Regions from separate parts of the Homo sapiens genome. Here region 1 is linked to region 2. The links come from fine-mapping of genetic effects on gene expression. A gene starts in region 2. The other region holds a variant in brackets. All regions are shown on one strand. Distances are between the middles of the regions. Region 1 has its middle 64 kb from the start of WDR26. Region 2 holds the start of CNIH3 (cornichon family AMPA receptor auxiliary protein 3).

Region 1 (4,385 bases), 120 kb before region 2:
GTTCATAGCAGCGTTATTCACAATAGCTGAAAGGGGGAAGCAACTCAAGTGTTCTTTGATGGATGAATGGATAAACAAAATGTGGTATATCCATACAATGGAATATTATGCAGCCATAAAAAGGAATGAAGTACTATTATATGCTACAACATGGATGACTCTTGAAAACATGCAGTGAAAGAAGCCAGTCACAAAAAAACTACATTTTATGATTCCATTAATATGAAATGTTCAAATAGGCAAATCTATAGAGACAGAAAGTAGAGGAGTGGTTGTCAGGGAGAGAGGCATAGGGAGGAATTGGGAGTGACTGCTAATAGGTACAAGATTTCTTCCTGGGGTGATGAAAATGTTCTAGAATTAGCTAGTGGTGATGTTTGCACAACATAGTGAATATACTAAAAACCACTGAACTGTATACTTTAACAAATGATAGATTTTATGTTTACTTTAAAAAATGATAGATTTTATGTTATGTGAATGATATGTTGATTTTTAAAGTCTAGGAATTAATCAATTATACTGTGATGGAATATGATATTTTAAGTCAGAAATTTACTTGTGGCATCATCTTCACTGTTCATCTGTAGAATCAGGAGAAGTGATGTTTCCTAGGTTGCTGTGAAGATTAGATAAGATAATGCATATGACAGACTTAGCTGCAAGAATATGGGTTGGGAACCCTTTGTTGTTATAGATGCATTTCTAAAGCAACTTTTTTTATGTGTTGCTGTTTGTTGGAGCCCTCCAGGAGGATCTTGGCACTGAGAGAAATCCCTAAACTAGAGTCATGGCTGAAGAGTGCTGAACACTTCCTGCACTGCTGGCTGTATGGTGGTCAGATGCTCCTGACTATGACCCTGCAGTGAAGCCCGGATCTGGGCAAAACTGAGAAGTAGTTGACACTTGCATCTCTTTCCTGACTGTCTTTTCTGGCCTGGTAGTCTTTTGGGTTATAATTCAGCATCTCTTCCATCTGCATGTCTCAAGTGATTAGTATTTTCCAAAGTGAGCTCATCACATTAATCATATTAGGGTATGAGCAGCCCTTTTAAGCTGTATTTGTATCTTACAGGAAGACCAGAAAAGCTCAGAAGGAGGAAGAATCTTCAGGCACTGTGCAAAGGGAGGGCAGGGAGAGGGGGAAGTTATTCTGCAGCAGCAGTGCCTTCCTGGGCATCCTGAAACCACCCTGATTCAGGGCCCATCTGGCCTCCTCATCTCAAGGCCAGTCTTGCTTGGCCTGTGCTCACTGCTGCCACTGCAATGCCATCTGGAAGAGAAAATCAGGACAATGGCTTCAGTTTCTTGCTCTCTTAGGATTAGGCTAACATGGAGGCCCCAGCAGCCCCAGCAAAAGCAGCAGTGATGGTGGTGGCGGTAGGGGTGTCATTAGCAACACTAATGAATCACTGCTGGGCCCGGTTCTCTTCTCTGACTCAGCTTGAAACTTCTTTCAGTTAACAGGAAGCCAGTAACCAGTAAAGTCAAAAGCTTATATGCAACTCTCTGGATTGGAAACCACTGGGGTGTTTTTTAAGCTTCTATTTCTAAAATAAGAAGGGAAACCAATGGACAGAAGCTTCCCTGTCTTCTTTGATGCAGATAAACTATGTTGGTAGAGGGTGATTGTGAGCTGGGGCCCTTGTTTCTTATGAAACTAAAAAATTCTACATGAGTTTACAAAAACAGGAAGCTGGCAGTGAAAGCTATTGGAATTATGTAAATGAAACAGTCAGTTTGGAATGCAGGTGGGAGTGTGCCTGTGGGAAAGAATGGAGAATGCATCAGAACACGGGCAGCCAGGTTACCATGCGCTGCTTCAGCACAGGGGAAGATGCGGGGGGCAAGGAACCTTCACTGCCCTGGCGTCATCAGCCCAGTGCTGCAACAGTGCAGCAGAAAGGGCAGCGGGGAAAGGCGACAGGAAGAGGAATCAAGACACTTACATTGCTCTAGGAGAGATTCGCATTTTTTTGTGGATCTGAGGATGGGAGCTCTGGGAGCTCTGGAGCCTCTTCCTGTCCGCAGGCACTGCAAAGCTTTAGCACACCAGTAGCTCCCCAGAGGGCTGGGAACCCATGCCAGGACTGGCACCCGCTCCGGGAAGGGGTGCTGGGAGTGCCATGATTTAGATCAGTGATTCACAAACTTTTGGTAGTGAAGACACTCCGTTAAAGCTTATTGTTTTGGGGTTGTATCCTACTCCCCGCCTTTTAAAAATGTTAGTTAAAAATTTAAATTAAAATGGACTTTGTTTTAAAATTAAAAATTTCCTGTTGTTTGAAGCTTCTATGACAACTGGGTAGCCTTCTGAGGTATTGTAATACAGTATTAGGATTTGGACTCTCTGCTGTATACACTAAGCTCTTAAGGGTGAAGGGCAGGCCATTGGTTCTGATAAGAAGAGAGGTTGCCATAGGTATCTCTGC[T/C]TTCTTACTCTTCCCCACTCCAGGCCATGTGGACATCTGGAGATATTTGATAAAATGTCCTTTACCAGCCGAGACTCATGACTAATCAATCGTTGTTTTTGTTGGTTTGCTTCTAATCCCTCTCCCTTCCAGTCTATCTTTCATCCTGCCATCAATTTCCTAAAACAGATTTGATGTGCCACCTCCCTCCTCAACAGTTTTCAATGGGATTTCCTACTGCCTGCATAAAGTCTAATGCCTTAGAATGGGGCAAGGAAAGCCTTTCATGATTTAACCCTCTAATACCTTTCTAGTTTCAATTTTTTATAACTCTCTATTTCGGGTCATTTTTTGAACATCAAGAAACTGAAAAGCATAGCTCAACTGCCTTATACAATACACGCCGTTATTTGCTTCTGGGACAAAAGAAGTCTAGAGTCAGCTGACTGGGCACTGTGGCTCACACCTGTAATCCCAGCACTTTGGGAGGCTGAGGCAGGAGGATCGCTTGAGGCCAGGAGTTCAAGACCAGCCTGGGCAACATAGCGACATCCTATCTCTACCAAAAAAAAAAAAAGAAAAAAGAAAAGAAAAAGAAATCTAGTGTCAGAGTGGGGCTTTGGGTAAGGCTCAACAATTCCCCAAGGATCTAATTCCTTTCTTTCTTTTTTCTTTTTTCTTTTTGAGACAGGATCTTACTGTGTCTCCTAGGCTGAAGTGTAGTGGCACAATCATGGCTCACTGTAGCCTTGACCTCCTGGGCTCAAGTGATCCTCCCACCTCAGCCTCCTTAGTAGCTGGGACTACAGGCCTGCACCATCAAGCCTGACTAATTAAAACAATTTTTTTTTTTTATAGAGATAGTGTCTCCTTATGTTGCTCAGACTGGTCTCTTGAACTCCTGGTCTCAAGTCATCCTCCCACCTCAGCCTCCCAAAGTGCTGTGATTACAAACTGAGCCACTGTGCCTGGCCACAATTTCTTCCTAATTCTCATGGTCCCAAAATGGTTGCCAGCAGCCTTCATCTCATGTCTCTAAAGAAAGAATGACTTGGCTGGTGCAACAGTTCATGCCTGTAATCCCAGCACTTTGGGAGGCCGAGGCAGGCAGATAGCTTGAACTCAGGAGTTGGAAACCAGCCTGGCCAACATGACGAAACTCTATCTCTACCAAAAATACAAAAACTTAGTCAGGCTTGGTGGCATGCATCTGTGGTCCCAGCTGCTTGGGAGGCTGAGGAGGGAGGATGGCTTGAACTCAGGGGGCGGAGGTTGCAGTGAGGCGAGATTGTGCCACTGCACTCCAACCTGCTGGGCGACAGAGTGAGACAAAAAAGCAAAGAAAAAAAAAAAAGAATGACTTTTCCCCAGCATTCATGACTGATCTTTAATCTGAGTAGACTTGTTTCTGACGTACATCTGCCCCTGCACCAACCCCAGTCGCCAGTGGGCTGGGATGTGCTGAGTGGCTACCTGCTGCACGATTTCCCTTGACCTCAAGACTCCCCACAATGCAGTGGATGCCTAAGTGGACAATGAGGCTGCTAGGATGGAAGAAGGGGGGCTGGAACCCGAGGAAGCAGCCGGCATCTGTGCATTCCACACACCCTGCACCATCACATCTCCATGCCTCCCCTTCTGCCACTTCCTGGAACCTACCATCTGCTTCCACTGATCAGAGCCCTGCTTATGCTTCAAAGCCTTGCTCGTGGGCCACCTCTGCTGCTGTGCCTCTTCTGTTCTGGAAACAGTAATCTTTTTTTTCATCTCTCTACTCTCTAAAGCATATCATGTTTCTATCTCATGTGCATTTACTAATTCTGCTTTGTTTTATGTCCACTTGTTTGTATATTTGACTCCTATATTGAACAGAAAGACACTTGAGGTAGGCGGAGTCATACTTTGTTCATTGTAGGGGTTTAAGAGTGTTGAATAAATGGTCATGGGCAATAATACTATCATTATTGAGAGCTT
Region 2 (4,385 bases):
AAGAAGCTGGGACTACAGGTGCATGCCACCACACCCGGCTAATTTTTGTATTTTTTGTAGAGATGGGGTTTCTGCCATGTTGTCCAGGCTGGTCTCAAATACCTAAGCTCAGGTGATCTGCCCACCTCGACCTCCCCAAGTACTGGGATTACAGGCATAAACCACCATGCCTGGCCAGGTATTTCTTTATAGCAATGCAAGAACGGCCTAATACAAAGTCCCACATTTTCATTTTGCACTTGGCCCTCCAAAGTATGTAGCCGGTCCTGACCCAGAGGCAATAAAATGTAGATCGGTTCATTGCTCTGGTCATCAGCCTCTGGATTTGCTCTAATTTCTCCACTTCTCACTGAAAGGCATCTAGTTTCTAAACTGGAGGGAGATATGAGGCCAGGCACTGTGGTGCACACCTATAATCCCAGCGCTTTGGGAGGCCAAGGCTGGAAGACTGCTTGAGGCCAGGAGTTTGGGACCAGCCTGGCCATATATTGAGACCTATGTCTGCAAACAAAACAAAACAAAAATTATCTGGGTGTGGTGGTGCATGCCTGTAGTCCTAGCAAGGAGTTTGAGGCTACAGTGAGCTATGATAGCACCACTGCACTCCAGCCTGGGCAACACAGCAAGACTGTCTTCAAAAAAATAAAATAAAATAAATTGAAGGGCCTGGAGCGGTGGCTCACGCCTGTAATCCCAGCACTTTGGGAGGCCGAGGTGGGTAGATCACGAGGTCAAGAGATCGAGACCATCTTGGCCAACATGGTGAAACCCCGTCTTTACTAAAAATACAAAGATTAGCTGGGCGTGGTGGTGCGTGCCTGTAGTCCCAGCTACTCGGGAGGCTAAGGCAGGAGAATCGCTTGAACCAGGGAGGTGGAGGTTGCAGAGATCACGCCACTGCACTCCAGCCTGGCGACAAAGTGAGACTCCGTCAAATAAATAAATAAATAAATAAATAAATAAATAAATAAATAAGTAAAAGATGTGGCCAAATAGCTGCAGGAATGTTGGGGCATAGTAGAAAGAGCCCAGGATTAGGAGTCCGCAGACAGGATTCCAGTTCTGTCACTAGAAAGCTGTATCTCTATCTTGCTGGAATTCATCCCTTCCAGCTCTCAAGGCATTGGAATCACATCTGTGAACAGGAAAACTAGCACACCAGAGTCAGAATCAAGCAATAGTTATTTATCTAGTTCCCACCCTGTGCAAGGTACCAGGTGCTCTAAGATTCACTCCAATCCATGAAGTGCGTCTACTCTTTCACCGAGATTTGCCAGTCGTCTTTCAGGGTATTTTTCCTTGCTTTCTGGATTTGATGACTTGTCTGAAACTGAAGTTCTCTCTGGAATGACTGGACCTCTTTCACTGCAGCGTCAGGAATCTCTTGCAAAGCAAGCATGGTGAACTTCCAAGATGCTGGGCCACTGGGGGAAAGGGTGCAATTAATAATCCCTACCACTTATTGAACGTATACCAAGTGCTAGGTTTTTTACTTATGTTCCCTTTTAATCCTTTGAAATGGCTTGACTCTACTCTTATTTATGTTTTTCTGATAAGGAAACTAAGGATTAAAGAGGTTAGGTAACTTGCAGCTAGAAAACGGTCTACCTTCAAAAGCATCCTCTTGACAATTCCACTAGGACCAACACCAATACCACCGAGCCCTCGTTGCTGCCTCTTCAGCGCAGAATAGCCCACCAAGTCCACGTTTCCCTAGTCCCAAGGTCGGATGGCTGGGGAGGGTAGAGGATGCAACGGAAGGACGTTAATGGAGAATTTTGCAGGGTCTGGGAGCAGAGCAGTAAACGCAGCCCTAAGCACTGAGTATGCTACAGTTTGGTAAAATCCATCCAAGCAGCTTTGGGATCCAAGGCTTGCACTGTATCCCCAACCAACACTAGGCAACGCCCCAAGTCCCCACACTTCCCACTCCGATAGGCGAAACTGCAAGAACCGGGAGGGGCGGCTGCGGCGTTTAGGCGCGAGGCACACACCATACCCTTCCGCAGCTTCCCACCTCCTCCAGACGCACGTGTTTAAAGAGTCCCTGCTCCAACCGGTCCCGCCCCACCTCCGCTCGGCCTCCAGCCCTGCTTGTACTGCTGGCTTCAAGTTTCCTCCGAGAGGCGGGCGTGCACAGCTGCAGTGGCGGCGGCAGCGGCCACCAAGCGCCCGGCGGCGCTTCGCCACCCACCTTTCCTCAGCCCCCGGCGCTGCAGTCTCCGCCCGCCGGGGAGGGCGCGCTCAGCGGAACAGGAGTCGAGGGTGGGGCGCCGAGAGGAGGGAATCCCGGGTCGCACCGCTACAGTTCTCGCAGTGGCAAAGGCGGCGGCGGCGGCGGCGGCAGCGGCAGCAGCAGGTGGAGCGAGCTACAGCGTTTGGCCTGAAACCCACTGCTGCAGCCACCCGGGCTGGAGTTGGCCCGTTGGGTGGAGCCAGTGCTCGCCCCGGTCCGACCCCCGGTTTCCGGGACACTTGGGTTGCGGAGGCCGGCTGGCCGGAGTCACGGTTGGGGACGGGCGCGCCTCGGAGCGCACGGCTGCGCTGGAAGCCGCGTCTGGGGCGCAGGACCAACGGGACCTACCTCCTCCCGGCTACCTAAAGACTCCTTCTCTCGGGAAAGAGCGCTGCCCGGCTCTGGGATTTGGGAGGAGCTCGGAGGCCGCTCGGGCACCTCGCTGGACACTATCCGTTTGCGCCCCGGTGGCGCGGGAGGGTCCGGAGCGGAGCGCTCGTCTCTCCTCAGCGGTTTAGTGGAGAAAAGCAGAGAGCTCTTCCTGGGGCGAATGGGACCTCCTCCCTCGGTCCTCCGTGGAGTCGTCGCATCGCTTGTCGTGTTGGTCTCGAGGGGCTCACAGCTTGGCACTAATTTGCAGGTGTTCGCTGCTGATTTGGTTTCTTCTTCGATTTGCGGACGGTTCCCTCCAGCGACTCTCGACACACGTTTTCCTGTCTTCGCCGGAGGGCCGGGTCTGGGGTCGCCGGAGCCTGCGGGAATCCAGCGCTTATTCGCTGACCCTCGAGTCGCTTCGCTAGCTGTGCGCCCTCCTGGGCACTAGCCTGGAGAGGAGCGTGCAGACGCGGCTCCTTGGAGGGAGTGCGGTCCTCTAGGGAGGCATCGGGCTCCTAGGGGCTTCTTGGCGTGTGTGGTGGGATTGGGGTCCGCCGGCCATGGCCTTCACTTTCGCTGCGTTCTGCTACATGCTGTCTCTGGTGCTGTGCGCTGCGCTCATCTTCTTCGCCATCTGGCACGTGAGTAACACGCTTTGGTCTCTCTTCTTTCGCCCCAATTTCGCTAAATTTCCCCGATTTCACCCCACTTTTTCCACCTTGCGGGCGTGGGCGAACCGGAAGGTTGGACCTTCTGCCGCTCCACTGTCCCGGGGCAGGAGGCAGTTCGCTGCATCCCGCCGGGCGCGCCTTCGGTGCCCTGGCTGGAGGCGAGGGGCCGCTGGTGCCCAGGTAGGACACCCTCTGCAGGGCCCGACTGGGCGTCCCGGGTCCCGGGCGCCGGGGAGTGGCGGCTACAACCACAACTAACCCCTTCCTCTCCCGCCCCGTCCTCTCCTGCCGGCGGGAGGCGAAGGAGAAGCGCCGCCGTCGGTCCCGGCAATTAGTCAAGTAGCTATAATAACTAAACATTTAAAATGTCAGCATCTGTGGTGGGTTGCATTTAGATATAATTGGAGACAAAGTGGAAACACGACGGGAGCGCCTTGTAAGAGGTAGGGAGAAGCCGAGCCCACGGAGAGGAAGGAGACCAGGCGATGGGGGTCGAAGTGGAAGGCGGTGGGGGAAAGGCGAGAAGGAGAAGAGCAAGGAGGCGAGGGAGACTGGGAAGGGCAGGCATCATTAAGGCCATGGAGGAAAGTCACGAAGAGAGACCGTGGAGAGCGACGACGGTGTCCTCCATCTGCCCTCTTGGCGTCTGAAGTCCGACTCCTGAAGACCCCCTGCAGGTGGCGAACCTCCGCTAGGCCCCCAGCGTCCCCAGCCCACACAAGCTTCCTGTCACCCTTCCCGGGGCTACGCCAGGTGGAGGGCAGCCGTGGATCCCAGTTCTTTAGGTGTGGGTGGGAATAGAGGAGCGCAAGCTTCTGAATAGGGGAAGAGAAGTACTGAGAGAGCGCGCAGGAGTGCGTACGCCGGTCCTCTCAAAGACTGTGCAACATTTAGCGAGTGCATGCAACTCTCAAGGCTTCCTTCTCTGAGGTTGTTTAAGCCCCCTATCCTCACCCTCAGAGGGCTGGTGGGAAGAATGGCCAAGGCCAAATGTTTAGAAGGAGCACCCCAGTGCATAATTTCCCACCTTTAACAGCCTTGCCCTGCCCAGCGTCTAGGTGACAGAGAAGGACCCTGAGACGAATTCTTGGAGGCATGGTTCT

Evidence for each region. PIP is the estimated chance that this variant, and not a neighbour inherited with it, causes the effect.
Region 1: its variant is fine-mapped to the expression of CNIH3 in whole blood (TOPMed, PIP above 0.99).

Annotation. Positions count from the first base shown.
Region 1 is chr1:224,496,927-224,501,311 of GRCh38, forward strand. It overlaps a transcript of CNIH3 not described here. Among named protein-coding and RNA genes, the nearest start is that of WDR26, 64 kb to the left of the region's middle. RefSeq lists enhancers at 879-1,408, 1,134-1,333, 1,409-1,940, 3,316-3,816, 3,817-4,317. The variant T/C (reference allele first, on the strand shown) is at 2,433.
Region 2 is chr1:224,614,004-224,618,388 of GRCh38, forward strand. It overlaps CNIH3 (cornichon family AMPA receptor auxiliary protein 3), which reads left to right and starts at 2,314. Exons shown (of 6, transcript NM_152495.2): 1 at 2,314-3,252. The coding sequence starts at 3,172. It overlaps CNIH3-AS2 (CNIH3 antisense RNA 2), which reads right to left and starts at 2,224. Exons shown (of 4, transcript NR_183287.1): 1 at 2,195-2,224; 2 at 1,609-1,733; 3 at 1,201-1,424.